Linked DNA regions of Homo sapiens: regions 2, 3 and 4 are each linked to region 1. Evidence: fine-mapped expression QTL. A gene starts in region 1. Each other region holds a variant in brackets. All regions are shown on one strand. Distances are from middle to middle. Region 1 holds the start of EIF2AK4 (eukaryotic translation initiation factor 2 alpha kinase 4). Region 2 overlaps BMF (Bcl2 modifying factor). Region 3 overlaps EIF2AK4 (eukaryotic translation initiation factor 2 alpha kinase 4). Region 4 overlaps FSIP1 (fibrous sheath interacting protein 1).

Region 1 (8,107 bases):
AACAAACCACTGTAAACAAAACAAAACAAAAAAATGACCTTTTCCTTTTTTCATTTAACAGTTTATTAAGGTATAGTAAACATATAACACATTGCATATATTTAAATTGTACAGTTTGATAAGTTTTGATATATGCATATACTTGTGACATGATCACCACAATCAAAATAATGAATGTATACAGACATCACTCCCAAGAGTTTCTTCTTGTTCCACTTTAATCCCTCCACCTGGCTCTTCTATGTCCTCCCTATCCCCAAGCAACCACTTATCTTCTTTCTGTTACCAAATTTGTATTTTTCAGAATTTTATGTAAATGGAATTATGTAGTGTGTACTCTATGTCGGCCTTCTTTCATTCGGCATAATTATTTTGAGTTTGTCTATGTTGTTGCTGTATCTATAATGTATTTCTTTTTATTGCTGAATAGTATTTCATTGTATTGATATACCTCAATTTGTTTATACTTCAATATGTCCATCTTGTGTTGGTGGGCATTTGGTTTGTTTCCAGTTTGGGGATATTACAAATTAAGGTGCTACAAATATTTACATACAAGTCATTGTATGGACATACGCTTTTGTTTCTCTTGGGTAAATGCCTGGGATGGAATTGCTGTTTCATATAGTAGGTATATGCTTAAGTTTTTAACTAAAATGGATGATAGGCCAAAAGGTAAAATCTAACACTATCTAGATGAAGACATAGAAGAAAACCTTTTTGGCCTTGGGATAGGCAAATATTTCTTAGATATGACTGCAAAACATAATTCATGTAAGAAAAAAATGACAAATTAAATGTCCTCTAAAGTAAGAAACATGCTCTTTGAAATACAGTTAAGAGAATGAAAAAGCAAGCCACAGACTGGGTGAATATTTTTGCCTGTCACATATCTGATAAAAGACATGTCCGGCCTGGTGCAGTGGCCTACACCTGTAATTCCAGCACTTTGGGAGGCTGAGGCGAGCAGATCACGAGGTCAGGAGTTCAAGACCAGCCTGGCCAACATGGTGAAACCCCGTCACTACTAAAACTACAAAAATTAGCTGGGCGTGGTGGCATATGCCTGTAATCCCAGCTACTCGGGAGGCTGAGGCAGGAGAACTGCTTGAACCCGGGAGGCAGAGGTTGCAGTGAGCTGCGATCGCACCACTGCACTCCAGCCTCGGTGACAGAGTGAGATTCCATCTCAAAAAAAAAAAAAAAAATACATGTCCAGAATATATAAATATTTCTCAAAAGTTAATAAGAAAACAAAAACAAAATTTTTAAAATGCACCAAAGATGTGAATAAAAACAGAAGACAGACGATATATGAATGGAAAATAATCACATGAAAAGATGCCCAACATCATTAATCATTAGGATAATGCAAGTTAAGACACACTGAGATACTGCTAAGCACCAATTACTATGTTTAAGATTAAAAACATTACAATACCAATTACTGGCAAAGAGGTAGAACAACTGGAACTCCCATAAACTGATGGGAATATAAAGTGGTACAACCACTTTGGAAAACACTTTGACAGTTTCTTATTTTTTTTGCTTTGAACTTTGACTTTAAAATAATTTCCAACTTACATAAAATTTTCAAGTCACTCAAAGAGCTCTCATATATCCTTCACCTAAATTCTCCAATGTTCAACATTCTACATTTGATTTAGCATCATCTCTCTTCTTTTTCCTGAATCATTTGGGAGCTAACTGCATATTTAATACGTCACTGCCCCCTTAATGCTGCATTTGGTATAATACTGCCATGTAATCCACAGATTCCTTTCAAATTTTGCTGTTTGTTTTAATTATATCTTTTATAGGTCCAGCGTCCAGTATAGATTCTAATTTTACACAATGGAAATATTTGAACATAGATTAGGTATTAAACGATGCTAAGAAATTGTTAATTTTTTTTTAAGAGACAAGGTCTTACTCTGTTGCCCAGATTGGAGTGCAGTGGTGCAATCACAGCTCACTGCAGCCTTGGACTCCTGGGCTCAAGCAATCCTCCCACTCAGCCTCCTGAGGGTGGGACTACATGTCACCTCGTCCAGCTAATTTTTTATTTTATTTTTTGTAGAGATGGGGCCTCGCTATGTTGCCCAGGCTGGTCTCAAACTCCTGGCCTCAAGTGATCCTCCACCTTGTGCTGGGATTACAGGTGTGAGCCACTGTCCCTGGCCAAAGGGTTACATTTTTAGGGTATAAGATTAGTAATATGTTATGTTGGTTCCTTTTCTAGTTAGAGATATATCCTTAGGTATTTATTTTTTAAAATGATATGATTGAGACTTAAAAAAAACACTCCTGAGGGATGGAGAGAAGAGATGAAATAAAATTGACAAAATATCTATGGTTGTTGAAGCTGGATGATGAGTACAGAGGAGTTTACTTCTAAGTATGTTTGACATTTTCATAAATATAGGTTTAAAAGAATTTTTTTAAAGACCAATAGAGAAATGGAGTAATTTTAAGGATTAGAGTGCAATGGCCATATTTGCAATTTAGAAACATTACTCTGGCTGCAATAGGAAGAATGGCTTAATGTGGGGCAAGAATGAAGACAGTGACTAATTAAGAGAGTTATTGAAGTAACCCAGGGAATTGGTGACAGTAGCCTGAACTAAGTTAGTGGCAATGGGTTAGAGTGTAGTGGATGGACAGAAGTGGTGACTATTTGGATGTGAGTTGAGAGAAAGGGAATTCAGAATCACACTCAGTTGAATGGTGCCATTTACCTAGTCAGAGATCACTGGAGAAGGAACGGGTCTCCAGCAGAGGGAAGATGATGATTTAAATTGGCCTTGGGTCAAGCTAGTGCATTTGTGTTATCTGGCCAGAAATGAGTGGATAGATGGCAGCAAGGAATTTACACAATCATTATTTAGTGAACAGTGGAGGAGTAAGCAAGGTAGACAGAAGAAACGTCACTTAAACCTAACTTGGGTTAGTACAATAGGATTATTCGAAATGGACATGCAGCATTAGTAAGTTACTGAAGATGAAGTGCAATAACAATGTCTGGGTAGACAGGTTATTATTTTATAAACTTGAAAAACGACGACTTGAGGCAGGATATAACACAAAGACTCCCTAAATTCACACTGAGTGAACTGGGAAGGGAACATGATTCTCTTCATGGGAAGGTAGCTCATAAAGATGCCTGAGTGGAAAGACAGTTTTCAATTGAATTTGCAAGGTGGTAGTGGAGATCCCCAAAGCTGGGGAATGTAGAGACAGAGAACATAATGAGGGTGTTGAATCTGTGGCTCAGAGAATAAGTTTGGGGGTACTAAAGTGGGAGGAAGGAGGGTGGGGGGGGTCACAATTTTTACTCCCGGTAGTCTTGTTCTGGGAAGGTACAAGGTGAAATTAGAAGTGACCTCAGAACCCATCGACGTCTGCCCTTTAAGAGTTTCCCGGCCGGGCGCGGTGGCTCATGCCTGTAATCCCAGCACTTTGGAAGGCCGAGGCGGGCGGATCACAAGGTCAGGAGATCGAGAACATCTTGGCCAACATGGTGAAACACCATCTCTACTAAAAATAGAAAAATTAGCCGGGCGTGGTGGTGCGCGCCTGTAGTCCCAGCTACTCTGGAGGCTGACGCAGGAGAATCGCGTGAACCCGGCAGGCGGAAGTTGCAGTGAGCCGAGATCGCGCCACTGCACTCCAGCCTGGGGAACAAGAGCCGAAACTCTGCCAAAAAAAAGAAAAAAGAGTTTCCCGCACTAGCCATGCCAGGGTGGAGAAGTTCCAGCAAGCACTTCTGTTAAAGATACTTGTTTCGTGAAAACTATACAATGTGGCGTTTTCATTCCTATCTGTGATTCATTTCTTAAGTTCGTGGAGTTCCTTTGCTCCCCTTCCCCCAGCAGGATGTGGGCAAAGCTGTCCCCCTGCCTTCTTCCTTCGCCTGGGCTTCTGGAGCCTCCGGAGCTAGCTCCCGGCGCGGAGCTCCGCCTACGGCCCGTCCCCGGCGCGGAACCCCGCCCACGAGCCCGTTTCCAGCGTGGAACACCGCCCATAGCCCGTCCCCAGCGCGGAGCCCCGCCCCGCAGGCTGCCGGGGGCCCACCGCCGCCCAGGCAAGGCCGCCCTGCCTTGGGCGCAGCGCTGCCATGGCTGGGGGCCGTGGGGCCCCCGGGCGCGGCCGGGACGAGCCTCCGGAGAGCTACCCGCAACGACAGGACCACGAGCTACAGGCCCTGGAGGCCATTTACGGCGCGGACTTCCAAGACCTGCGGCCGGACGCTTGCGGACCGGTAGGAACGTGGCTTGTCAGGCCCGGGCTGGCGTGCCCTGGCCTCCCCGGGCCCTGGGCCAAAGCCCGGACACTTCCAGATTGGGCCGCCGCTTTAGGATCCTGCAGTCTTTTCATCCCTTAGGTTCCACCCATGCTCACTTTAGTCCTTGCACCTGCAGCTGGTCTGCAGAATCCCACCTAGGCCGAATTCTTCTACAGTCCTTTCCCCATGATTTCCCCAGAGGAATCCCCCTGGATTCCTCCCTCTTACCTGGCACTGCTTCTTATTCCTGCCTACATCCCATAACATAACTGCCTCCTTCCAACCTTGTCCTTTTTCCCCTCTGAAAGCCCTTGCGGATGATACCACAGCAATTCATACGCGCCCCTTGCTACTTTGTTCTGAGAACGCTTTTTGGGCTCTCGCACAGGCCTTACGTCCTCAATCAGAATTCTCAAGTCTCATCCATGCATTCAAATCTGCACGCCACATAATTCCCTCTGTACTCCCCAGGCATCCTCACTGTGTTTTCCGGTATGGAGGAACTTTCCATACCTCTGCACCTTCCTCTAAGACATTTAGCTCAGAATAAAGCACACATTCATCTTAGCTGTAGTAGAGAGAGGGTTCTAGACTGAGTCTAGAGAAGGAGTGTCCAATCTTTTGGCTTCCCTGGGCCACACACAAAATACACTAACACTAAGGATAGCTGATGACCTAAAAGAAAAAAAAAATTCGCAAAAAAACCTCAATGTTTTAAGAAAGTTTACGAATGCGTGTTGGGCCACATTCAAAGCGGCCCATGGGCCTCGGGTTAGACCAGCTTGCTCTAGCTCTAGACCTTTTAAAATGGCATTTTGTTTAAAATAATATTTTGCCTTTTTGTCTGGAAATTAAGGCACGTTATAAAGTATTTATACTGACAGTTTTTTCCCCATCCTTGAAGAGTTGATCTACCAAACTATTTCTGAATATTATCATATTATCATTTAAAACATAGTTCTAACTTCATCTGCTTTTTTTTTTTTTCTTTTTGAGACAGGGTCTTGCTCTGTCTCCCAAGCTGGAGTGCAGAGGCATGACCACGGCTCACTGCAGCTTATTCTCAAGCAATCCTTCTGCCTCAGCCTGTCAAGTACCTGGGACTACAGGCACATGCCACTACACCTGGTTAATTTTTTTAATTTTTTGTAGAGACAGAGTCTTGCTCTGTTGCCCGGGCTGGTATCAAGTTCCTGAGCTCATGCAATCCTCTCACCTTGGCCTCTGAAAGTGCTGGGATTACAGGTGTGGGCCACCGCGCCTGGCCTCTTCATCTGCTTTTAACTTTGGCATTTCACAACATCTGCTCTATCTACACATCCAGGATTTCCTCAAGAAATACCATCTTCTGGAGCTATCAGGACAAAATATTCTCTCTCAAACTCAGGGTGCTTCTTCCTTCATTAAATATTTGTTTTAGGCATTAGGAATACAGCTGTGGGCAAAACAGACAAAAATCCTTGCCCTCAGGGAGCTTACTTTTCTAATGCTTAATAATATGAAGTTATTTTTAACCTGAAATGGTAAAAATATAAATTATTCCCCTTAACATGACAGAGAAGTTGGTGACTGGGGAACTTCTATCTTCCCAAACCTTGAGAATCAGGAAGTAGGCCCAAGAAGCAGCCAAAATAGGTGTCTCAAAGTGTACATGGGACTCAACACAAAGCTCCTAAGGCTTCATTCTGAACTAGTTTGTTTACTTTATACAAGCTTAGTTGTCTGCTCCTAGGGCTGCAGAAAAATGGAAGAGAAAAAGCAACTTCTTTTAGGTAGGGATATTGATAACCTCAAGAATTTATAGCTGGTGGCTTTCATAACAAGATGGAATACTAGACAAACCAAAGCAAAAACTATAGAAGGCAGGCAGAAGAATTTAAATAGCTGTCTGTGGCCTATTGTACACCGGGCAAATGGCCTCAACACATTCATAGGACTGGCAGGCAAATAATTGATGGTCTCAAGGATGAATCAGAGTTTAGTCATTCAACAAGCACTTATTATCACCTGCTATTTGCCAGGGAAAAGTGATGCAGGTCCAAAATCCTTTATCCAAAACTCTTTATTGAGAGGGAGTTTCTCTCTGTCGCCCGGGCTGGAGTGCGGTGGAGCAATCTCGGCTCACTGCAACCTCCACCTCCCAGGTTCAAGCGATTCTTGTGCCTCAGCCTCCTGAGCAGCTGGGATTACAGGTACCCGCCTCCACACCTGGCTAATTTTTGTATTTTTAGTAGAGATGGAGTTTCATTATGTTGGCCAGGCTGGTCTCGAATTCCTGACCTCAAGTCCTCCCGCCTCGCCTCCCAAAGTCCTGGGATTACAGGTGTGAGCCACCGTGCCCAGCCTTTTATCCAAAACTCTTGAGACTTGATGGGTTTCAGAATTCAGAAGTGCTTCTGTTCACGTTTATGTGTGCACATTCCACACATTACCTAATACCTTCCTCAGTGTCTGGGGCAGCATCGAAAATCAAACACAATGAAACATAGAAATACTCAAATTTCACACTGAACAAATAAACACTATAACTAACCTCATGTCAGTTCAGGCTAAATTTGCTGCCAATAAATTCAGGTTAGATTTTTTTTTCAACTTCTTTTAGTGGGGATGTGTTGTAATATAAATTTCAGTTTAGTAGCATATGTATATCATTTATAAATAACATTTTGAGGTGCATGCTAAAAACTTTTGCATTTGTAAAAAGTTTAGACACTGCTAGTTTAAAGTATCTATAATTTATAGATAGTTACAAATTACTAACTTATTTTGGCTAGCTTTCCACAGCAGCAAAAGGTCTGCTCATTTATAATTTGATAGCTTTTGGAAACATCCCTCCAAAAAACTTGCTTCAATCCCTGGATCCCCCAGTAGTGTATGGTGGTGTTTGTTTTCCTTTATCTTCAACAATACTATATATGTTAGACTTTTTCATCTTTGCCACATAAATGAAACATATCTCATTTTAATTTTTATTTATTTATAAATTATCTAGAACACCTTTGTTTACAAACCATTGATTTTTCTTTTTCTGTGAACTGCTCATACTCTGGTTTATTTTTCTACTCTGTGGTCCATTTTCTTGTTTATTTGTAAGAGCTAAATATCTTAAGAAAACTAGCATTTTGGGTCATATAATGCATATATTTTTCTCCTAATTATATGCATTTATTTACGTAATTTATGTGATTTAAAAAATGTTGATAGAGTCAAAATGACCTTTTTTTTCTTTTATGGTCCCTGTGGGTTTTTTTTCCCCCTCTGTTCCAATGTTACTAAAAACCAAATTCGTCAAAGTTTACTTTTAACTTGTTCATGACTTCGTTTTTAAATTTTCATCAAATAAAGATATAAGTAGGTTTTTTTTTTTAAGTTCTTCGTTCCATCAAAGTACGGGCCTAGGCCACCTCCCCGTGTGCATCCCTCCTCCTCCAGCTAGGCAGCTAGACAAATATAGGCAATTGAATTTTTCAGTGTCTTCCACTCATTTGAAATGCCATTCCTACAAGCCCAGTGCCTGGTAAAACAAACAAAAAACTTTCAAAAATTGTTACTGAATGAAATAATTCTCAAATGTATTTCAAGTCTCTTTTTTTCCTTGCCTGGAATGCTTGGTCTCTTGGCTTGTCTCAGCTTCAATGCTACATCCTCAGATAGTTCTTCTTTGATAACCACATTTAAGTATATACCCTCACACCCCAAGTCGTTTGTTAAGGAGAGCACCACGTCATCTCTTCAACGGCACTCTCTAAGCTTGTACTTATGTGTTTATTATGTTTGTTTTCCCCCACCAGACTGAAGTTCCATGAGAGCTGGAACCATATC
Region 2 (8,107 bases), 160 kb after region 1:
AGGAAGGCTGAGGTCTTGCAGGGGACCCAGGCAGGCCTAGGTGCAGGAGGCAGGATACATGGGCCGGCCCTTGGGAAGGAACTAGTTTCCATGCCTCTGCGTGTGACAGTCCTTAAGGCTCATGAATTGGTAAGGAAGGCTCTATGGTGCATGGATCCCCAGGGACCAGGAATCAGAGGACCTGGCTTTCGGGTTGGATCTCCCATCAACCTGCTCATGAGTTCTCTCTTGGCTTATAAGGAAAATGCAGGTATTGTACTAGATCAATGGTTTCTAAACCCAACTGTGTCACTAAGCCAGCTGAGGTGCTCTTGTAAGTATAGAGTCTCCAGGCCTCTCCCAGACCCACTGGGTCAGAATTTCAAGGAAGGGTCCCAGGAATCTGTATACTGAACAAGCTCCCTTGGTGACATTTTAGAGATCAGAAATCATTTATTGTATATTTTAATCATAAAAGCAATACATGTTAATTGTAGAAATATTGGAAAATACAAGACATTACAGAGGAGGAAATAAAGTCACTCATGATCCTCCAGGCTAGAAAACACTTCACGTGTTGGTGTTTTCTTCAGTCCCTTTCGATCTCTTTCCACCAAAGTAATGTCTTACCCCACTGGCCAAGCCAGAGGTCAATCCTGCCCAGGTGGTTCTGTGGCAGCCAGGCCACAGCCTTTTGGAAACCACAAAGGTGCTCTCCAACCCTAAGGAGTTTGTCATCCACGACTACCTTCAGGATTACAACTCAGAGCTCCAACAACTGAATTCTGTCAGCTGAGTGTAGGGCCTGGGAACCACCCATGGGCCCATGAGCCCTCTCTGGCTACAAGCAGATACCACACAGGCTCCCTTTGGCCTTCTCCCGCCTCAGGGCAGCCCTCACAAGACCCTTTTCCATGAGGAAACCAAGATAATCAAAGAATGCCCTGATTACAAAATACAACAATAAATAAAATTTTTCCTAAAAGTTTAACAAAAGGGCCTGACTAGAAAGGAAAGAAAAAAGACTTGAAGGGAGGCCAGTGGGAGAAACAGTGAGGAGGAAGGAAGTTGGCCTTCACTGAACAGGATGAAGAACACAAAGATACCAAAACACCAGAGAACGTGGGATCTTCCACAAGAGGGTGTGGAGGAGAAGGGGAAGAGAGGGGAACCAGGAATGAGTGTACTTGGCCTCTGACCCTCAGGCACCCGGCACAGCACCCAGCGCACAATCTGAGATCAACAAGGGCAGATCCCCAGAACCAGGCCTGCCCTCCTAGACTCAGCTAGGGAACCCCTCACAGAATGGGAGTTCCCAGAATACACAGTCAGGGTGACCCAAGGGTCGGGGCTGGGATACAGAGGAGGGGAAGCTCACCCTAGAGCCCTCGGACTCACATGGTTTAGAAGGCAGGGCCAAGGAATGGAGGGAATGAATAGAGGTGAATGCCCCCAGGGAAGGTGCCCTAACATGGTAGATCACGGTGTTCTCTTCAATGAAGAGAGCACAAGCAGGCATCAGAGCCCCATGCGGCTTCTTTGGCCCAGCCTCATTTTCTTGCCACGGACAGGGGATGAAGGCAGTCAGCTGACAAATGTTTCAATCCCTACTGTGTGCAACACCCTATGCCTGAATGCACAGCTGCTCATCCTGTGTAATGGGGAACATGGAAGGCATACAGTAGGCACTCAACAAGGGCATGCTGGACCGACTACAGAGGAGTCAGCCCTGAAAGATAACCCACTTGTCTGAGGCCAGGAACAACTGATGTCTGGCCAGGTCTAAAGATGTACTTTATGTGATAGTATCAGCCTCACACCTGGGGAGAGGCCCAACTAGTAAAAGGCCTCCTTTTTTTTTTTTTTTTTTTTTTTTCTCTAAAGAGCTGGCTGTGGTGTCTGACAAGGTTGGATTACATAAATCAAACTCTGTTTCATCCCACACAGCCTCTGCCCTAAGCACAAAGCGTGTTCCCTACGCTCCCTGGATAAGAATCTCCCTCTGCCTCTCCCCTTTTCAGATCCAATTCATACCCTCTGGGGGCTCTGTGTGTCACCAGTGTTCCAGATGCTCCAGCTAGAGCTAATTCACCCCAAAGTATCAGAGGAAGAAGCAAAGCGAAGCCGTGTGCAGCTCTAAAAGAACCTAACTCACAAAATGCAAATTTACCAAACAGAGAGCAACTTATAATATCTCAGATACAGAACAGAGCACTTTCCTTTCTTCTCATGTGATCCTCACGATAGGAAGAGCAGGTATTAATCAACCCATTTTAGAGCGACGGAAACAATGGCTCAGAAAAGTCATCCCAAGTTAGTTGGGAGGGGTGTAATTTGAGGCCCTGACTTCTGACTCCAAAGCTATGTTCCTTCACTAAAATTTTACAGTGTGTTTATTGACATTATGAAAATAGCATTACCTTTTTCAAAGCAAATCACCACTGATCTGCTCCCCTAGTATGCTTAAAGACATTGTTTCCAGATCATTAACTATTTAGTAAGGACGCTGTGGACCAGAAAAAAATAACCCTTTCAGAGGCAGAGCTAACTGAAGATCAAACAGAAATAAAGCTAAAACTGGTCTGAAATTATAACTTCAGACTGTGATCTGAAACCACACTCAATCTCTTCAAAATGCAGAATTGTCTATACTCTAGGGGAAGGTGCACAGTCCACGATGTGAAGTTTTCCTCCCTCTTCCCTTTTCCCTGTCATTCTCTAAACCTACTCAGGCCAAGGCTGAAAGAAAGAGCCTTGCAATTAAGAACAGGAACATTGAGAGCAGGAAAATTCCTGCTTGAAGGAAGCTAGGAAGATGTTTTCTGTTGAAATAAGGACATTTTAATGAAGCACCCAACTGAGCTATCAAGCACCCAACTGAGCTACCAAGCACCCAACTGAGCTACCAAGCACCCAACTGAGCTACCAAGCACCTAACTGAGCTACCAAACACCTGAGCTACCAAGCACCCAACTGAGCTACCAAGCACCTAACTGAGCTACCAAGCACCCAACTGAGCTACTAAGCACCCAACTGAGCTAAGAGTTATGTGGATACAAAGATGATTAAAATATTATAAACTTGGTTCTCAATTGTTTTACAATATAATGGGGAGAAGAGCAAGAGCACCTAGCTGAGTATCACATGAGGCAGAGCGGGTTGGGGCAGCAAATGTGTGCTTCCTTGTACCCTTGTTTTCCGGAATGTGATTGCTGGGCAGCAGGTATGGGGCGATTGGACCATGGTTCCAGAATCCATCAAATCTGTATGACGCCTAGCTCAGCAAATTACGGTGTGACTTGGACATGTTACCTCACTTCTCTGAGCCTCAGTTTCCTATAACACAGTGGCAATGGAGTCTAAAAGTCCAAGGTTGCTGTGGTGATTACGTAAGAAAAATATACATGAAGCACTGGGCCTGGGGGCTGCAAGGAGCAGGCTCCTCCTTCCCTGGGGAGCACAAGGAAAACCTGGGACTCACTGGCTTTGCAGAGCACGTCTCTCAATATGCTCTGCAACAGGGCCGGCCTGGGGAGCACCATCTTCCCGGCAGACTCACGAAATCCCTGGGAGATCCCTGACTTTCTGCTTTGAGACTGCCCACAGCAGCCACAGGCCATGGGGCTCAGGATTCTAGGCTGCCAGGGTAAGCCAAGGATTCTGAAACCCAGAGGGCAACCCCTTGGACCCAGTGGGCCCACTGCCTCAGACTGCTTCTGACCCAGAGGCCCGAGGAACGAGCAACGTGGCAAAACGGAAAAGGAAAAAAAAGACTCCTTGCCAAGAGCTTCCTCAGCCCAGCCAGCAGTGTTAACAGGACATTGAAGCCACCATGGCCACGCCCATTGCTTCTCTAAGGAAAAAAGAGCAGTCCGAAGCCAGCCAGCTCTCAGTGGAAGATGGCAAGGCTTCCTCTAACGCAACTGGAAGACACTGGCTCCAGCCACTGGGGGTTGAGGGGTACGGTTCGGGGACAGAGCTGTGCTGCACCATCCATGTCCCCAGACCCTTGTTTTGCACCTCCACAGCCTGGAGGGAGGAACTACTGAGACCCTTACTCAGTTTCCTTCAAGCTGAGAACAGCTCCATCAAACTACTGGGCAACTTCTTCAGAGCTCAGAAGGGCACAATGGTGTGTGCCCTGGTTAAAGAAGGGAGAGGGAGGGGGTTCGGGGGACAAGCCTGTTGTGTGTATTATGCTATGCAAAATAACCCCAGGTTCTGACACTCGACTTGGGGTCTTTTCAGCTGACTGTTCATGTCCTGTCCAGGACCAGGTCAAGGCAAACCAGGCAAGGAGGAAGGATGGAACCCTCCCCTTCACACACGGACTGATTGTGTGCTCTGGTCATGGAACATGACCTCTTGGCTGCCAGACA[T/A]GGATCAAAAGGCAAACCAGTCATTTTTCTTTAACCTTCTTTCTTTGTGTCTCCCTTAGTCCCCTCCTCCCATCACCCACTTTCCAAAAAAAAAAGCCAATTTCCATCCCATGGCAGGCCTTGGTGGGGAGGGAATGAACTCTCCGGAACTACAAGGCCCTTCTCCTGGAAGAGAGAGCAGTCAGGTGCAGAGTGTGTGGGGAACTCAGCCTCTAGTCTGCCACGCTGATGACTCAGAAGCTAAATATAGCGAGCGATATAAACAGAGCCAGCCACAGAGCAAACACAGGGCCCCCAGCCCCGGCGCTGGCTCTCACGCACTCTGGCTCTCCGCAGTCCCTCCCCCAGCCTCATTCTTCCCCTGGCACTGTCCTAGGTGGGCCTCCCACTCCTGGGACAGAGGCTGGCTTCCTAGGGACCCATCTCACTCTATAGCAAACCTCTGGGGCCCCTGCCCGGGGCTGTCCCATCTAGACGCTGAGCAACCTAGTTAGCCAGCTTAAGTTCCAGAAAACCACTCACTAATAACTAGAGAATCCCAAAGTGTCAGGAAGCAATCAGGGGCTCCCTGAACAAAGGATCCAGTCTGCTAGGCAGAGAAGCTGCTAGTTAATAAACCATGCAAACACCAACTCGGGTACAACTTCCAAAAGAGCTCCCCAAATTACAAAGTCAGGTCCAAGCAAAATCCTAAAGTCATCTTTTAACATATTTCTAAAAGTACTCAACTGTCCCTGACTTAATAGTTATTTGTATCACAACTCCTAAAGGCCCTTCACATCAACTAGGCAAGGTAAGTATTAGAAACCAAGACTAAGCCGGGTGCAGTGGCTCACACCTGTAATCCCAGCACTTTGGGAGGCCGAGATGGGCGGATCGCCTGAGGTCGCGAGTTCAAGACAAGCCTGACCGACATGGAGAAACCCCGTCTCTACTAAAAATACAAAAATTAGCCAGGCATGGTGGTGCATGCCTGTAATTCCAGCTACTCAGGAGGCTGAGGCAGGACAATCACTTGAACCCGGAGGCAGAGGTTGCAGTGAGCCGAGATCGCACCACTGTACTCCAGCTTGGCAAGAAGAACGAAACGCTGTCTCACCAAAAAAAAAAAAAAAAAAAAAAGGCTTGGAGAGATTACATGATTTGCCCACGAACACATAACTTATAAGTGGCAGAGCTGGGATTTTAACAGATCTGCCTACAAGTCTAGGATCCTTTTTGTGATATTACAGCTAAAGATGGTTTCAACTGAGTGGCTGAAAGTTTTCTCAGATTTCATTTGCCAAAAAGTCTAATTACTATTCAGAGATTTCCAAACCCGGCTTTTCTGAATGGAGCCACTCCTGGTCCAAGTGAAAAAGCCATTTCCAACATGAAGAATTCCAACCCTCCTGTAGCTTTACTCACTCGACTGTTTACAGTAACTACTGTTTTTGAGGATTCTTGGCTTCTTAACATTGCCCAGAAATACCCCCAAATGTCATGATGGGCCACTGGGACAGAAGACTCTCCCAAGGGGAGGGGATACCACTTCCTGCCCCTCCTTAGGCTCGTGCTGAATGAGGCCATGGCACAAGGACAGGAAAGCTGGGGCTCAGACCTTCTGGCCAGGGCAGCCCAGGGGCTCAGGGAGGAAGTACATCTGCACCATGCTCTTCCATGCAGAAGCTGGACACAGAAGCACCACAGCACCACCCTCAAGATAAGTCATTATCAGCAGACCATCGGGGGTCCCTGCCACAGTTTGTCAGCTCACAGAGGAGCAAACAGGGGAACCTTCACTCCTGCCCCGGCCAAAGGAAGGTGGGATGTGTGGTGAGGTTCTGAAAGGTTTTTACCTCCACTCACTCTGCCTCCAACTCTCTTGCTGCTTTGGAGACACAAAGAGCTGAGGCGGAGCACCCTGCTAACTCTGATCTTCTGCCTCCGGTTTTTTGCCTGTGGATCTGGAAGAGTCACCCTGAACTGGTAACTCGGGTGACCAGGCTAGTCCTCCACCTAGCAAGGCTCTTGGGAAATGCGCTGAAAGTGCAGATGGCCCACGTAAAACGACACCCAGGGAAACTTGGAACCTGTTGCATCTGGAGCCAGGTCGATACACTCAATTGGGATTTCATGGCATCAGCACGCCCCCTCCCTCTGCTCCATACCTCCAAGGGAGAAGGTCGTTCTGGTGCAAAAAAACGAGTAACTCAGGTCTGTAACCAGGGACAAAAAGGGGGAGTGCACACTCTCCACAGGACTATGGACCAGTGGCCACTGTCTAGCCCCAGGACACTATCCCAGATGTAGGGGAAAGGTGACGGTCAGGCCTCCTCAAGTCCCATCTGCCTCTAGGGTTGCTTTTCTTGGCTCTCTAAATCCAGCCCGCAATGATGGGGAATGACTATCATTCCCTGAAGAGAAATCGATAAGGCCAAGGTCCACAGATGATCAGTCTGGACACTAATTCCTCTGGACCAGGCAGGTGGAGGGAAGTTCAGGGGAGGCAGCTCTGCTCAGGGAGTCCCCTGCCAGGTGGAGTGGGAAATGAATTGTGAACCAACAAGAACAAACGTCGGGGGTGATCAGGATCATAAACAGAAAGAAGGAAACAGGCATTAAAGAACATCTACTGTGTGTCCCAAACTCTCATAGGTATTTTCTCACTTAATTATCACAGTAAAATTCTGTGGTATTAGCACTAATTCATAGAAGAGGAAATAGGCTCAGTGAAGTCAAGTGACTTCCTGAAAACTAGTAGATGGCAGAGCTGGTATTCAAACCTGGGCTTTCTGACTCTGAACCCAAAGCCTAGAAACTAAATCCTAAATAACCTCCTTCCCACTGCCTCAGTTTCTCTGCCTGCAAAAATGAGGGAAGGGAATAGGGAAAGAAGATAAAGGATAAGAATGGAGGAGTGACAACAGTACTTTCTAGATATGAAATCTTAGACTGTAGTTTATATAAGAATCAAGCTTAGAAAATGACTCACTTCTCAAAACCAGCTGCTGAAACGTTCCAGGAGTACCAGTGTTCCACCTGCCTGAAGCCATCACCTTAGCCCTTCCTGCAGGATGAGTTCCTGGTGAAGGTCTATAAGTAGGGTCAGTGGGGAGGAGGGGGTTAAAAGCAAGAAGACTCTGGGGAGAACTGTTTAAGGAGAAGACAAAACCCTGGCTCTTTGTACTGGAAAATTTGGGAAAACCAGCTCTTTGAGCTAGAAAAGGCTCACTGGTCAGCCTCCTACCCTTGTAAGTAAGAAGTAGGTAGATGGCAGGAGGGTAGGGGTACAGGAAACCTGGGAGCCAGTGTGGAGTAAGGTGCAAGGCAGAGGAGACTCTCATGCCTTGCACCTCCACTTTCCTTCTCCCCAGCTTGGGTGGCTCTGGCTAAAAGCACAACACCTTGTCTAAAACTAACCTGTGCATGCAAAGAGGCAGCTCTGAACTGGGAGAAGTGATGCCAACCAGCAAAAAGCAGGGCAAGGCAGGCGCAGTGGCTCACGCCTGTAGTCCCAGCACTTTGGGAGGCCGAGGCAGGTGGATCATCTGAGGTCAGGAGTTCGAGACCAGCCTGGCTGACATGGCGAAACCCCGTCTCCACTAAAAGTACAAAAATTAGCCAGGTGTGGTGGTGCGTGCCTATAATCCCAGCTACTCGGGAGGCTGAGGCAGGAGAATCGCTTGAACTGGGGAGGCAGAGGTTGCAGTGAGCCGAGATCATGCCACTGCACTCCAGCCTGGGCGAAAGAGCCAAAAAAAAAAAAA
Region 3 (8,107 bases), 39 kb after region 1:
TATTTAAATGCACCCTAACAATGAGGTTGGCCAAAATGACAAATATGATGATAGAATCACAGATGGAAAGTTTCATTTCCATCTTCAAAATGTCACCTTTAGTGTTCTGCCTTCTTCATTGATGAAGAGTAATTTAGTCAAGGTTAGCAATAGCATCATGTGTTGTTAAAAACAGTACTGGGAGGTTTAAGTAGAAGTACCTTTCCTTTCCCGTTTAGTAGCAAAATGAATGGGCTCGGTAGGTAAAACTTTCCTAGTTCTCTTCTTAAATAGCTGTATGCTCTGTCAGTTTTAAACTTGAGATCAGCACAATTTCTTATTCTTTTTTTTTTTTTTTTTTTTTTGAGATGGAGTCTGGCTGTGTCGCCCAGGCTGGAGTGCAGTGGTACGATCTCAGCTTCCTGCAAGCTCCGCCTCCCAGGTTCACGCCATTCTCCTGCCTCAGCCTCCTGAGTAGCTGGGTCTACAGGCGCCCGCTACTACACCCGGCTAATGTTTTGTATTTTTAGTAGAGACAGGGTTTCACCATGTTAGCCAGGATGGTCTCAATCTCCTGACCTCGTGATCCGCCCACCTCGGCCTCCCAAAGTGCTGGGATTACAGGCGTGAGCCATAGCGCATGGCCTTCTTATTCTTTTAACAAGATTTTTCTTTAGACTATTTTGTATACTTCTCTCCCTGGAGTGGTTTGATAGACTGTGCTTGGTTAAGGAGCTGCCAAGAACTGTTTTTATGAACTTTGCTGTCCAGCCCTGGTTAACAAAAGAAAAATGCCATTCACAAAGAATGAAAACAGCAACCTTCCATTTGTAGTTATATTTTTACATATTAGTGAACACCCTTTGGAGCAAGATTTTGTTTCAAATCAGCCTCTGTGATGGGTAAGACTCTGGAGTCAAAACATCTGGGTTCAGGTCTCACCTCTATGTCCTACTGGCTGAGTGAATTAACCCCCTGCCCTGCGTTTCCTCCTCTGTGAAACTGGGATAATAGCACTGCCTACCTCATGAGGTGGTTGTGAGGATTAAATTAGTTAACAGCCATAAAGTGCCTGGCACTTGGCCCAGACTGAGTCAGTGCTGGTTTTCATCACCATCCTCAGTAGTGAGAACTATGAAGAAATGTGGGTGTTGCCAGGCATTTTATCCCTTTTTGTTCAAAGCTGAACCTTTTCTATATACGGCTACCCTGTTGCCAAAATTATTGATTCAGAGAAGTTCATTTTTAAAGTGAGATCTTGGTGGCTATAAATCTCTTAAAAATACTGTGCATTCTAGGTAGGCTGTAACATTTTTCTGATCCAGATTTACTTTCAAGTCAATAACATTTATGTCACAGTTGAGTTACAGTTGATAACGCAATTCAGAAACCCAACAGGGCATATATAGGGATGCTCATTGCAGCATTTTGTGAAAATGTGAAAAATTGGAAATAATCTCAACAGTAGGAGAATGTGTAAATAAATTCTGGTAGGTCCACGCCTATACAGAAGTTTAAAAAAAATCTTTAAGTACTGGCTTAGAAAGAGCTCCAAGACACATGGTGGAATGAAAAAAGCAAGCTGAAGAATAATGTATATAAGATGATATTGCTTAAAAAAATCAAAAAACAATACTATTTTGTTTGGATGGTTGTATGTTTATGTGTATAAATGCATAGAAAAATCTCTACAATGAGACACCCTAAGTGGAAGAAAGAATTGGAAGGGGAGGTTGGTCAAAGGCTTTATCATTATCAGTAATGTTTTAATATTTGCAAGGAGAAGGTATATATGTTTTAATGATATAATTAAAAAGTAATTTTAAATTTAAAGGAAAATACGGTATCTTATACAAATGGTTTTATTAGAATTTTTTTGCCTGTTCAAGCTATGAAATTAGGAGTACCTTGCTTTTTACTGCTGCAACATAAAAAAAAGTTACCATTTATGATAGTTGCTGTCACCACTTTGTATGTATAGATTTTTAAGTCCAGAACTCACAACGACAGTTGATTCTTTTAAGTATATTGTTTTAATTATAGGTCAAGTGCTACCAAGTCGTACTACTTGGGCCGTTGTAATGAAAGTAGCTTGGCATGGTGGTTCATGCCTGTAATCCCAGCATTGCAGGAGGCCTAGGTGAGAGTATCTCTTGAGTCCAGGAGTTCAAGACCTGCCTGGGCAACATAGTAAGACCTCATCTCTACTTTTTTAAGTATTCCAGCACAGCAGGGCGTGATACCTCACACCTGTAATCCCAGCACTTTGGGAGGCTGAGGCAGGCAGATCACTTGAGGTCAGGAGTTCAAGACCAGCCTGGCCAACATGGCAAAACCCCATATCTACTAAAAAGACAAAAATTAGCCATGCATGGTGACACTCACCTGTAATCCCAGCTACTTGAGAGCCTGAAGCAGGAGAATCGCTTGAACCTGGGAGGTAGAGGTTGCAGGTTGCAGTGAGCCAAGATAGTGCCACTGCACTCCAGCCTGGGCAAGAGAGCAAGACTTCGTCTCATAATAAAATAAAATAAAATGAAAATAAATAAACAAAACATTCCAGCATGGTGGTACACGCCTGTAGTCCCAGTTACTCAGGAGGCTGAGGCAAGAGGATGCTTTGAGTCTAGGAGTTCGAGGCTGCCATGAGTGATGATCGCAACACTGCTTTCCAGCTTGGGTGACAGAGCAAAACCTTATCTCAAAAAAAAAAATTAAAATTAAAAAAAAAGGCCAGCTTAAATCAGTTACAGTTTAACTACTTAGACTTTAACTTAGACTTTAGCTTGCATTGAAATCATTTGGAGCTCTTGTTAAAGCACAGATCACTGTCCAAACCTCCAGAGATGCTGATTTACTAGGTCAGGGGTATAGTAGAATTTGTATTTCTAACATTTTTTAGGGGATACTGATGCTACTGGCCAGGGACCCCACTTTGAGAAGCCCTGGGTTAAAGGTATGGCTTGTTTTTCTTCATTAAAAAACAAAACAAGAATTGTCTATTACACCATTAAACAGTAAGTTAATGGGTTCAAGGAATGAAGATTAAAAGAAAGTATATGAGGCCGGGCACGGTGGCTCACGCCTGTAATCCCAGCACTTTGGGAGGCCGAGACAGGCAGATTGTTTGAGCTCAGGAGTTGGAGACCAGCCTGGGCAGTGTGGTGAAACCCTATCTCTACAAAAAATATAAAAATTAGCCAGGCCTGGTGGTGCCTGCCTGTAGTCCCAGCTACTGAGATGGGAGGATTGCTTGAGCC[C/G]GGGAGGCAGAAGTTGGAATGAGCTGAGATCACACCACTGCACTGCAGCCTGGGCGATACGGCAAGACCCTATTTCAAAAAAAAAAAAAAAGCATAAACCAATTTTTAAAAAAAGTATGCAATAGAATATGGGACTTTAAAAAAGCCTTCCCTAAATGTTTCCAACTTGCTTCATCCTGTAATGAGCAGGCTTCATCTAAAGCTCGTCATACTGAGCCACTCTGCTGCACCAACTCTCTGATTTGCTTTGTCTTTCGAAAGCTTTATTTATAACCGGTTCCTGCAAAGGCTTAGTTTGGCATGACAAGGCATTAAACTGTTCATCGAGGTGAAAATTTATAGCCTACTTGTGCTACCTTAGACTTTTAAAAAATTGTTCCATGAGGGTAAGTCTTCTCATCTAGAGATGCCTTTTTTTGATTCGCCTCTTGTACCCAGCCTGTCGCATAGCATGTAAATCCTGCAGGAATGTTTATTAATTTAAATTCACCTATGAGAGTACATTCTGGTCTTTGAGTAACATGAATTCTATAATGTGTATCTTTAAAAAATAAACCCATAGTTAATGCCTTGGATTAACTAGTTTAGCACTGATTGTTTGTGATGCTAAGATTCTTCCTTCCCTCTCACCGAGATGTGTGTGCTTGGATGACAAGGAAAGATGGAGTCCCCAGCAGTTGTTGAAACACAGCTTTATAAATCCCCAGCCAAAAATGCCTCTAGTGGAACAAAGTCCTGAAGGTGAGTCTGTTACCTTTCTTTATTTGGTAACCTGTTTGACATTAAATTATTTTGAAAGTATACATAAACCAAAAACTGGAAGGGGCTGCATGTGTTATTTTATGTCTTTTATTCTGAACTAAATCCATTAGTTTGATGTGTGCCATGTGCATGGGACTGTTTTGCCACCCTGATTTTTCTAGTCTCTATTGATGGAATGAATGTCCATTGCTGTAGTCTCTTGTAGTGTTTAGTCACCCATAGTGCCATGTAACTAGATTTTTCCTGCTGCACCTGAGATTAAGGAACCTCGGTAGAGATTGGGATGGATCATGAGACCTGAGTTTTGGTTCTAGCTCTATAGTTAAGTCACTTATTCTATATAATCCCCCACCTGTAAACTTGGGCTAATTATATATTTCTGCCTACTTTAAGGAGGGCAAGGTGAGGAAAAGTTTTAAAAGGCCACTCAGGTAAGAGGTAATTTTTCAAACTACTGGTTGGAGCTCTTCTTCCAGGGCTTCCATCATTGTTGGCTATGTAGCTCTTCCTAAATTTCCAATGCCTCATGTGCCTCTTACTCCCTGTTTTATCTCAGATTCTGAAGGACAAGATTATGTTGAGACTGTTATTCCTAGCAACCGGCTACCCAGTGCTGCCTTCTTTAGTGAGACACAGAGACAGTTTTCCCGATACTTCATTGAGTTTGAAGAATTACAACTTCTTGGTAAAGGAGCTTTTGGAGCTGTCATCAAGGTGTGGTACAGAGTCATTCCCAGTCCCCTTTAGAGCTCCTTCTCTGTTCCATTTCCACAAAGACTCATGGACTTTACTTTTATTTTGGGAGTGGGGAGGGAAGTGAATATGGCTGTTGGATACTATGCTCATCCTCACCTTCCTGGAGTTAAAGGTTTTATTTAAGTTACGCTGGACACAGTTGAGAATTGTCCCACTCCTCTTTCCTTGCTTCATGTGGAGCATTAACATGAAACACACATGGTTATAACAGCACTTCAAGTGGAATCAAGACCTCCACAGAAAGAACATTTTTGTGTGCTTTGGTTCAGAAAGAACATTGTTCTTTTTTTCTCCTGTTTGCTGTTAGAGTTGCTGTAGATAAAAAGGTTCTAAGGTTAGAAGAGAGATGGACTTCAAACTGGGAGATGGCCCCAGCAGGTCTCGATGGCTTTTATTTTCCAGCTATTATTGGGACAGGAAAGTAGCGATGTATTATTAAGGTACACTGTTGTTGGGTCTTCCTTTCTTCGTTCTAGTCTATTTGGGTGACTTTTATTATTATCTGCCCCTTGTAGAAAGAGGTTTCAGCTGTTTTTATATAATAGAAGTATTTCTTTGTAAATTAGGAGACCCAGATTATTGTATTAAGTCCATATACAGTACATGTCATCTTTCACATATGAAGGTAACCCACCATCAACTGAGTATATTGTCTGTTAAGGATTCTGAGAGTATCATTAGGAAGCATTACTGTTACTGTAGAAAAACTTTTACACTAAAAAAGGAATTAAATTAGTTTTCCTGTGGTAAAAGACAGACAAGCAAGACAGATGTCCTGATCAGAAAGATCATAATTATGTCTAAGAGGAGGGGATGATTGAAGCGTATACTGTCCCTTTAACACAATATCATTTTGATCAAATCCTTTAACTTCATTCTATTTTAAATTCTTGAACGTAGAATAGTAACAAATTTCATCTCTTTACAAGTACTTAATAATGATAGGCAAGCTCATATAACAAAAACATCTGAGTAACTTAAGCCCCCACGGTTTCCAGTAGTTTCTCCCTGTGAGAATCCACAGCCCTCACCTCCTACCTCTGTGCTTCTGTGTCAGAGTAGGGCAGCCTGCCCAGTGATCTGGCATTCATTAGCAGTTGGACCCATTACTGTTTCTGCACCTTTTCACTTCAGTAAATGAATTCCTAGGGGTTTCCAGTATAGCAAGCTTTACTCCCAACCCAGTTCGTATATGATGTGTACTGAGACAGGAGATCGAAAGGCAATGCCAAGATCCCCACCTCCCGCCCTACACTGTCCTCTTCCCTATTAATGTGGCAGTAAAAGAACACAGGGCTATCATTTTTTGGAGCACCTGCCATATTTCAGATTGTGTGCCAGGTGATTTACAAACCTTGTCTTTAAATCTCAGGACATTCTTACGAGATGGGTATGATCCTCATTCCCTAGATGAGGGAACTGAAGCTCAGAGAAGGTTATGTCCTTTGCCTGAGATAAGGGAGATAAAACCAGCATTCAGACCCACCTCTGTTGTACTACAAAGTGTGTGTTCTTGTCACTATTTCCATACAAAAAAAGATAATCTGAAACTCAATTTTGTAGTACTTCCTTCTTATTCCCAGGACTTCACTTAGACTTTTATTAGTTTAATTGAAACTTGTGAGCCAAACAAGAGAATGATATTCTGTTTTGTGTTTTGTAATCAACTAATTTCTCCTGCCACCCATGGCCACATGGCATTTGCTTTTCTAGAGTATATCATCACCTCAGTTGACCTGCACGGATGTGACTACAAGGTTTCAGTGAATAAGACTCTGTAAAAGTTACTTCAGTCACCCCAATTACATAGTGAAACTGCCTGGCATAAGGATGCCTCTATGTAGGATGGGAGGACTTGCCTTTGCAACGTTTTCTTGCTTTCTTATTATTTTACTGTGTTGTTAATTGTATTGTTCTGGTTTCAGTATACATCATCTTAGGTATATAACAAAATCAATGGGCAGTGATTGTGTTAATAGCAATTGCTGTTATTGACTAAGCTAAGCACCTTTCTCTGTGAGGCCTTGATACAAGTGCTTTACAGTCACCATTTGGGGTAGTGGAAATGGTATAAATGCCATTTTAAAGATAAGAAAATTGAGTCTCAAGGAAATTAAGTAATTTTCCCAAGTTCACACGGCTTTAGAAATCAAGGAATTAACCTTTGTGTTCAGGTCTGTTAATATTTTTGGTGTTTAATTTGTTTTTAGTGACTTTAAGTGTAAAAAAAAATCAGAGAGAAACTAAAATCATCTGAAACTTTACACTGACTTTAGAAAATAATTTTTAATCTTAAAATCAAGACACTTAGAAATTTAGATAGCAGATACATTGGAAAAGCAGGGAGGTAACTGTCAGTAAAATTAATTATTAAAATGGAGATTATGTTTTCCCCAGGGTCTCCCAGCAAGCTAAATATATCTAGAGTCGGGTGGGCTGTTTTCTGAATTTTGTGGCAGTCAAAGCTTTCTTCAGTTTAAGAATTTCAGGCATGTGGTTCTTGACTGTAGCTGTGGGACTCATTTAGAACTTCACGCTTTCCTTGGGAGGGGATGGGGTGCGGTGCAAATGCCTGTTTGTGCAAGGCTCCGAGCGGCTGACCTTCCCCTGGCTGTGCCGCAGGTGCAGAACAAGTTGGACGGCTGCTGCTACGCAGTGAAGCGCATCCCCATCAACCCGGCCAGCCGGCAGTTCCGCAGGATCAAGGGCGAAGTGACACTGCTGTCACGGCTGCACCATGAGAACATTGTGCGCTACTACAACGCCTGGATCGAGCGGCACGAGCGGCCGGCGGGACCGGGGACGCCGCCCCCGGACTCCGGGCCCCTGGCCAAGGATGACCGAGCTGCACGCGGGCAGCCGGCGAGCGACACAGACGGCCTGGACAGCGTAGAGGCCGCCGCGCCGCCACCCATCCTCAGCAGCTCGGTGGAGTGGAGCACTTCGGGCGAGCGCTCGGCCAGTGCCCGTTTCCCCGCCACCGGCCCGGGCTCCAGCGATGACGAGGACGACGACGAGGACGAGCACGGTGGCGTCTTCTCCCAGTCCTTCCTGTAAGCGCACGGCGCGGACCAGCTGCCTCTGATGCGCCCCCTAGTTTCCTTTCTTTATTTTTTTTTCCTTTTTCCTTTCATTTCCTTCCTTCCTTCTTTCCTTCTTTTCTTTCTTTCCTTTTTTGAGATAGGGTCTTGCTCTGTCACCCAGGCTGGAGGTCAGTGGCGCGTCCTTGGCTGCAACATCCGCCTCCCGGGCCAGCGAATGCCCCCCAACATTAATCCCCACCAAGTCCAAGCCAGGGAAAAGGGGATTCATTTAGAAATCCAGACGTGTTGACCATGTTTAAAAACAAA
Region 4 (8,107 bases), 290 kb before region 1:
AACCTGCCAGGATGATTCTTTTCAGGTGTGCATCTGAGACACGAGGGGAGAGACCTTTGTTTTAATTGCCCATGATTTGCTTTATGGTCTCCAAGAACTCATGAGAACTTCTGCCAAAGTAGTTTCAAATTCAGAAGCTGGGACAAATGAGCATCTCCACCATGGATGAGGAGCAGTATCTAGATACACAATGTTCAAAAGCACTTTTCAGCACTATGATTTACAGGCAAGTACTGAAAAAAAAAAACTTAGCCAAGAGGATTTTTTGAATTTGTAACTAAAGGTAAACCTGTTTTATAGCTGGCATCTCATTGTTCAGGAAATTCCAAGGCCGGCTGCCATCAAAGGTTGAGAAAATAAAATGATTTAATTCAAGTTTTCAAATTGCTGATGTAAAATGGTATCATTCCATTTCTCATCCACATATAAGTGAGCTGAACAATCATCAGGCAGTTATAGTCAAAAGAAACTTTTCAGAACAAAGCTGTCATTAAGAGATATAAAAACATTTATCCAAAGAAGACATAACAATGGCCAACAGCTATGTGAAAAAGTGCTCAAAATCACTAATTATTAGAGAAATGCAAATCAAAACCACAATGAGATATCACCTCATGCCTGTTAGTATAACTGTTATCAAAAAGACGAGATAACAAGTATTGATGAGGGCATGGAGAAAAGAGAAACTTTCTACATTCTTAGTGGAAATGTAGATTGGTACAGCCATTGTGGAAAACAGTATGAAGGATCCTAAAGGAATTAAAAATAGAACTACTGATACAGTGGCTGCTGCCATCATGTCAGCTGCAGCAGGGAGGCGTGGCTGGGGCTGCACACTCCATGGAGCCAGTGGGAGCCCTGCCTCTTCTGAGTTGGAAAGAGAGCTACGTGCCTCTGCAGCCACCCAAACTGCAGCTACAGACCCAGGCCTCCTGCTCTAGTGAGCAAGCAGGAGCCTCGCCCTCCTGGGTGAGGCTACAGGCCACCTAAACTACAGCTGTGAATCCAAGCCTCCCTTGTGCTCTTGGGGGAGCCAGGAACAGTCAGGATCTGCCCTCCTGGGTGCAGCTGGAGCCACGGCACTGGTGGCTGCAGATCTGGAACTCCCAGTTGGGAAGCAGGCAGGAGCCGGGGACAAGCGGGAGCCCTGCCTCTTCCGAGTTGGCCAGGCCGGAGCTCCTGGCTGCAGCTGCTGCTGCCCTCCCACGTGCAGGGCGTCTCTGCAGCCTGCACCCTCGGGCACCCCAGGAAGGTTCCCTGCCCCTGTCCCTGAAGGCTCAGGGGTGTCTGCTCCCACTGCCTGGCCTCTCTCCGCTCCCAGTCCCCAGCTCCAATCTCGGAGCGGGGTTGGGGCCGAGCCCCAGGGCCATGAACGGCAGCAGGAGGCAGACAGAGTCCGGGGTGGAAGGGGGCAGGGTCCCCAGTAAGGCCCCACTTTCAGGCCGTCCCTGGCCTGAACACTGGGGGCCGGGCTGCCAGTCCTGTGGACGGGAGAGGAGACTCATGGTGCCTCTTTGGCTTGCCCATGGACCAACTGGCATGCACTCTGTCCTCTCTGAACTCCATAAAAGCTCTGTACTCAGCCAGAGCAGGGCAGAGGATGGCTAAGGACGAAGAGGGCAGAGAGAATGGGAGCAGACCACAAGGTGCAGAGAAGACTACCCTGTCTGCTGATAGCTGGAGACGATGGGAAGACCAGCTGCAGAGAGGAGTACCCTCACTGCTGAGAGCTGCAGAGATGACCTGCCAGTAGAGAGGAGCTACTCACTCCTTTGAGCTGTTCTAACACTAAATAAAACTCTGCTTCTTCACCCTTCACTTGTCTGTGTACCTCATTTTTCCTGGATGCAGGACAAGAACTCGGGCAAAGGTGCTGGGGCCACAGAGGTTTCCCACCAGAAAAATCGACACCCAAGAGATCTCCTAACACTACTGGTTTGGGCCGTAATCCCAGCACTCTGAGAAGCTGAGGCAGGAGGATTGCTTGAGGCCAGGAGTTCGAGACAGGCCTGCGTAACATAGCGAGACCTCATCTCTACAAAAAAAAAAAAAAAAAAAAAAAAAAAGGCTGCGTTTGGTGATGTGTGCCTGTAGTCCCAGCTACCCTGGAGACTGAGATGGGAGGAGTACTTGAGCCCAGGAGTTTGAGCTTTACAGTGAGCTATGATTGCACCACTGCATTCCAGCATGGGATACAGAGTGACACTGTGACACACTGTCTCTTAAAAAAAAAAAAAAAGTCTAATGGAAATGAAATCACCACTTAACTTCATAAAGGTATCCACATTTCCTTGTTCATTGCAGCATTATTCACAATAGTCAAGATACTGAAACAACTGAAATGTCTGTTGATGGATGAATGGATACAGAAACTGTGATATACACACATACAGAGAAATATTATTTAGCCTTAAAAAAGGAGATCCTGCCATTTGCCACACGAATGAACATGGATGACATTATGCTAAGTGAAATAAACCAGACACAGAAAGAAAAATACTGCATTATTTCATTTATATATGGAATCTAAAAAAAGAAAAACAAAGTTGAATACATGAAGATAGAATAAAGTGGTTGTTACCAGGGGTGATAGAAGTAGTTGTTACCAGGGATGTGGTGAGACTGGTAGGAAATGGGGAGATATACATAAAAGGATACAAAGTTGCAGACATGTAAGATGAACAAGTCTGGAGGTCTAACATACAACATGAGGACTATAGTTAGTAATACTGCCTTTTATTTGAGATTCTTGCAAAAAGAGTAGATTTTACGTGTTCTTTCCACACATACGCAAAGAGGGTAACTATGTGAAATGAATGTGTTAATTTGCTTGACTATAATAACCATTTCACAATGTATATCAAAACATCATGTTGTATACTTCAAATATATATAATTTTAAAAAAGTGGTTTTTTTGGTGGTCAAAAAAAAGAGATACAAAAACAAAAGCCCTGTGGATGCATCATCTGGGGTTTATTCCACTTGACATATGAGACTCTGCCTTATGGTAGGGCTCAGGTATCCACCTCTGTCCCTTCTGGCCCTGGGCATGCCAAACCTACACCCAGAAGAGACTTGTGCTACCCTTTCCACATCTTTTCTACCCCATGACATCACTGGTATGTTACTCAGATTTTGGTGTTTTCTAACAGTCTCAGGACATAGGAAAAAAATTTACACTTAAAGCTTCAGAACAGCCATTCAAAAAATTATCACTTAATAGAATGAAAACACACATGTACCATGAATAGGAGAGGGAAGGCATTAAAAAAAAAAGACTTCTTAAGGTCAATTTTCCAAAAGGTCTATGTTTAAATGTTCTAACAAAATCTACTGCATAAGGACAAATAGATATTAAACTGTTATATTGGGAAAAATACTGCATGACATAGAATGTCTGAAATCCAAAAATAAATTAATATCACTACGCTTTGCCCTTTAATCAAAAGTAAGTTAGTCACTGGTATTTAATGCACACAAGAATCTAGTATAACATGGACACATGAAGGGGAATATCACACTCTGGGGACTGTGGTGGGGTGGGGGGAGCGGGGAGGGATAGCATTGGGAGATATACCTAAGGCTAGATGACGAGTTAGTGGGTGCAGCGCACAAGCATGGCACATGTATACATATGTAACTAACCTGCACAATGTGCACATGTACCCTAAAACTTAAAGTATAATAAAAAAAAAAAGAAAAAAAAAGAATCTAGTATAAAATTGCTACCAAAAAAAAAAAAAAGAAAAATTAGAGAAACTTGAGATTGTACTGGCAGCTTGAAATTTTCTAGAATTCTAAATTTTAATTTTAGTCTCTACCTTAATATAAGATATTTGCCAAATGTCCATAGAATTGAAGGTTTTGTACTACTCACTAACAATATATAATGTTTGCTTAACTTGGGTTTGATGTAGACCAGTGGTTCCACAAACTAGATCATAACCTTAGAAGGTGAGACATACGCATCGTAAGTTCTTAAAAGTTCTCCAGGTGATTCTCATCTGCCGTGGTTGGGAACCACTGACACAGACCAATGCTTTCCAAGACCCCACCTTGTTAGGAAAAGAAAACACAAGTATAGCAGTTAAGAACCCAGGAGTAACTCAGAAGAAGTAAGTTAAACAGATTTTTAAAATTATAGTGAT[G/A]TAAATAAGATACTAACATTGGTGCCCAAAAGTAAAGGTAGGTTGGAAATGGTGAAATGTGTGATGTAATTGGTAGTTTGGGGCCTATCAGGGAGACTTCTTGGGAAAGTCTTAATTATAAACTGAATTATAAAGGTCAAGAGTCAGTAAATCACAGAATAAAGAGGCAGGCATTTTAAAGATGACCCCTTCAAATAATCTGAGCATTCAAGCCACCAAGTAATAATGACTATAATTATCATGTGTTCTATCTTTATTTTATATCATTATTTAAAAAGGAAAGCTATTTCAGACTGGGATTTCTTGTGCAAAGTTTTTTTTTTTTATTTGGGTTTTTTGTAACTTATGGAAAATATTTCACCCAAAAAGGAATGGAAATCTTTATCCAGCCTAAGAGTGAGTGGAAGAGAACTAAGCAAACGGAAACAACCAATAGCTCAAAAGCTGAGTACCATAAACACCTACACATTTGACTGGACACGATTTCAGTCTTCTTTAAGAGGAGGGACTTAAGAGTCTTAAGAGTTTTCAGCTGGAATAAGATGTATAAGGATAAATTATGTTTATTCACATAAACTGTTTTGCAATATGAAAAGACCAAAAACACCTGTAAAGCCAGTGTGGCTCCCACTCCAGGAACTCTAGCTGGTAATGTTTCCTGACAGAGTAATTTATCCTAAATTTCACATCCTGCAAGCATAAGGGTCAAATATATTTTAGTCATAAAGACACTATAAGTTTCCGAGTAGAAATGCTTCAAGTTTTCAATCTCCAAGAACATTTGTCCCACCTATTCTGATAATACTTTACTATCCCTTTGTTTTTCAAGATACCAGAAATGACTGAGATGGAATTTACTCTAGCTTACTTCTTATATTTAAAAAGATCTCTTGCTTTTGCATTTATCTAGGCACATATAAAAATCAATATGTGACCTACTACTACCCAGACAGAGGTTAGCATCATTTTCTAAGGCTCCTTGCTCTTCACTGTACTTTGGTCTTTTCCATCCCTGCCTGACTCTACACCACTCTCAGGCTATTCTTCCCAGACACTTTTTCTACTCTGCCGTCGTCCTCTGCCCAGGAACCAACAAAGCGTTCCCTGTCGGATCAAGTCCTGAACACTCAGCTTGACCCTCTCTAATCAGAAGAATCTGCCTCTTCAACTTTATTTCCACGTTCCCCAACCTTTTCATTCTAATTAAGCCAATATCCCGATTGCCTTCCATAGAAATCATGTTTTCACTCACATACCTACTCAGTAAACACTTATTGAGTGCCAGCTGAGTGTCAGGCCTCGTGCTCATTTCTGGCCCCACACTTTTGTTCCTGCTGGCCTGGCTCAAATGCCAAGTCCTCCACAAAGCTCTCTTCAGCTGTGCTGATTCCCCACTCAGCGTCCTTATCCTCGGGATTCCCCACATCAGCATTCGCAACCTGAACTCACACAGCACTTTTCTAGAATACTTTCAGACATTCTGTTTCAAATAAATTTGGAAACTCTGGTTCAAACTCAGTTGGACAGGTTTCTCTACTATGGAATTCTCAGAGGCTTTAATAAGCTACCATCAGTTGTGAATTCCTAAGAGGGTTATATAATATTCAGAATTTCACAAAATTCCTTGGCCATAAAAATTTTACAGTATAATTGCTGAAATCCCAGGACAATCTTATTTGGGAAATGTTGCCTACTATTATTTAAAATTGGTACCACACAATTTATCACTTAATCACATTGCTGGCTATATGGTATCATCCTGTTACTTCTCTGTCTTCTTTCTATACATCTTTGTCCTTTTCAAATACCCAAAATATTAAGTCCTCCCTTATGACTAAAAGTAAAGAGTAAACCAAAAAATACTGTCTCAACCCTTGGGGAAAGTTTTCTAATATGTATTTATTTACCTCCCTGCCTTAGTAAGCAGTACAATCAATGGATCTTTGATGGCTGAGACAGGTTGAAATGGCAAAAAGACAACAGCACCACTTTTGAAAACGACTTTATGTAGACCACCTCCCTGGCCTCAGCGTCCTCATCTGAACAAGAAGGGAACTTCCCAGTTCTGACGGTCTATCGTACAGCATCTCAGCGTTGTGATTCTTAAATAAGTATTCACTGTACAATCCTATAAAGGTAAGAGCTAAACAATCAGATATCACCCCCAGAACATTCTTCGGAAGTCTCTGTGCTCTGCTTTCTTACTAATATAATAATAGCTTGTTTTCTTATGATTTTCCTCCTTCGAATAAAAACAATTCCTATTAATTTAGGTTTCCTGTCATTTGGCTTTGAGTTAACACAGGCTTTACTTGACAGGGAAGGGAATGACTCGGCAATCACAGCAACAGCCACACCTGCAGTGCTCCTTCGTTTCCCAAGTGCAGCCAGTAACTGGTCAGATGGAGTCCCAGAGGGCATGGGCCACAGAGAGAGGAAGTCATCTGATGGGAGGGTGGGCATGAACCCATGGACATGAACCCATGAAAAACAGCTGTCATGTGTCTCCATATCTAGTTATACTTCAGGTTCTAGTGGATGAACAACCAACCAACCAATTTGTTTTATAATGTAGGGTTTCCTAAGTTAACAAATCTTAAATTTCTTAAGCTTCCAGAGCCCACTGGAAAAAGATCATCACAATTCTAAGACTCTGGAAATGATGAATGTCAAAACAATCTCTATTCCATTATTCCAATAAATTTTGTGACATTGATGTGATTTTCACACAATGTTTAATGCAAAATGACAAGCAACTCAAATTTCCATATTATTCTTTTAACCATCTGTAAAAAATAGATAAATATGACATCTGGTGAAAGCTCTAATGAATGAAAAGTGCATTATTTCCTCCTCACAGCAGGTGTGTGACTTTGGGCAAGTTACTTCTCTAAGCCTCAGTTTTCTCATCTGTAAAATGGGGCTTATTTCATAGAGTTGTCCTGGGTGTTCAAAAAAATAATGTATTCAAAACACTTAACACATCATTGTGTGACTGTTATTGCTTTTTTGCTTATGGTTGTTGTTACTATGATTATCGTTTGACTAGTGTTATTGTTATAAAAAGGACAGTTAGAAAGAATTCTATTAAACCTCTGGAGATTACCTCACTTCGATTTGAAAGCCAATTCTTTCTGCACTGTTCTAAGTCAACCTATACAAATTGTTAGATACAAGTTGGAAAAGCCCATAAAATCGTGTGGTCTCTTTTGCCTTTAATAGATTCCTCCTTTCAACCACTACGTATCTATCTCCCCCAATTCACATCATCAAAGAAAGCTTAATGCAATTAAATGGGGAAAGAAGTTAAGATGAAATTAGACAAAGCCACATTAAAGCAGTCAGCTCAATTCTTGACACACAGATTGGAGGACAAATAAAGGGGTGAATGGAAGAGATGTTTTTCTTCCTAGGCAGCAGGCATAAGTTACACTCCCATAAATGTCAATAACCAGCTGTGTGACTCTGAGTGGGTTGAGAAACTATTAGAATAGATGACCTCCATAGTTCCCTTCCAGCTCAGCCTCAGAGCCCACACTGTTGCTTTCTGTAAAGTTAAGTCTGAAGGGGAGGATCGGGCTAAATATTACCATTTTAAAAAAGAATGCTAGTGCTATTCAAGAATGAAGTTTAATTCTCAGTCCTTTGGAATACAACTTCAACTCATTTACTTAGATAAATGCTTTCCAGTACATTTATTAAGAGAGCAAGAAGTGATGTTTTGATTAAAAGTGAATTCTAAACATTTGCTACATTCAGAGCAGTACTTTGTTAGTTATATTTTGAACTTGCATCTGTATTTATAGAAGCAAGTTCAACTTATATATATAGGACTAAGAGCTGTTGAAATAAAAATTTGCTATAGATTTTGCACATTTCGGGTGATTAATCAAAAGATTTCATCTACCTAAACATTTCTTTCCATTTTTTTTCTTAATCTTGGATCCTACTTATCTAA

The links.
Region 2: its variant is fine-mapped to the expression of EIF2AK4 in whole blood (INTERVAL, PIP above 0.99).
Region 3: its variant is fine-mapped to the expression of EIF2AK4 in whole blood (TOPMed, PIP above 0.99).
Region 4: its variant is fine-mapped to the expression of EIF2AK4 in whole blood (INTERVAL, PIP 0.98).

Annotation. Positions count from the first base shown.
Region 1 is chr15:39,930,079-39,938,185 of GRCh38, forward strand. It overlaps EIF2AK4 (eukaryotic translation initiation factor 2 alpha kinase 4), which reads left to right and starts at 4,037. Exons shown (of 39, transcript NM_001013703.4): 1 at 4,037-4,261. The coding sequence starts at 4,118. RefSeq lists an enhancer at 3,750-3,889 and a silencer at 3,910-4,319.
Region 2 is chr15:40,094,323-40,102,429 of GRCh38, forward strand. All of the region lies in intron 4 of BMF (Bcl2 modifying factor), which reads right to left. Among named protein-coding and RNA genes, the nearest start is that of BMF, 11 kb to the right of the region's middle. RefSeq lists enhancers at 2,381-2,430, 3,104-3,617, 4,264-4,833 and a silencer at 3,814-3,863. The variant T/A (reference allele first, on the strand shown) is at 4,359.
Region 3 is chr15:39,969,035-39,977,141 of GRCh38, forward strand. EIF2AK4 (eukaryotic translation initiation factor 2 alpha kinase 4) reads left to right here. Exons shown (of 39, transcript NM_001013703.4): 10 at 3,874-3,980; 11 at 4,558-4,715; 12 at 7,380-7,810. Among named protein-coding and RNA genes, the nearest start is that of EIF2AK4, 39 kb to the left of the region's middle. The variant C/G (reference allele first, on the strand shown) is at 3,240.
Region 4 is chr15:39,644,482-39,652,588 of GRCh38, forward strand. The region is part of intron 10 of FSIP1 (fibrous sheath interacting protein 1); the gene reads right to left. Among named protein-coding and RNA genes, the nearest start is that of THBS1-IT1, 62 kb to the left of the region's middle. The variant G/A (reference allele first, on the strand shown) is at 4,150.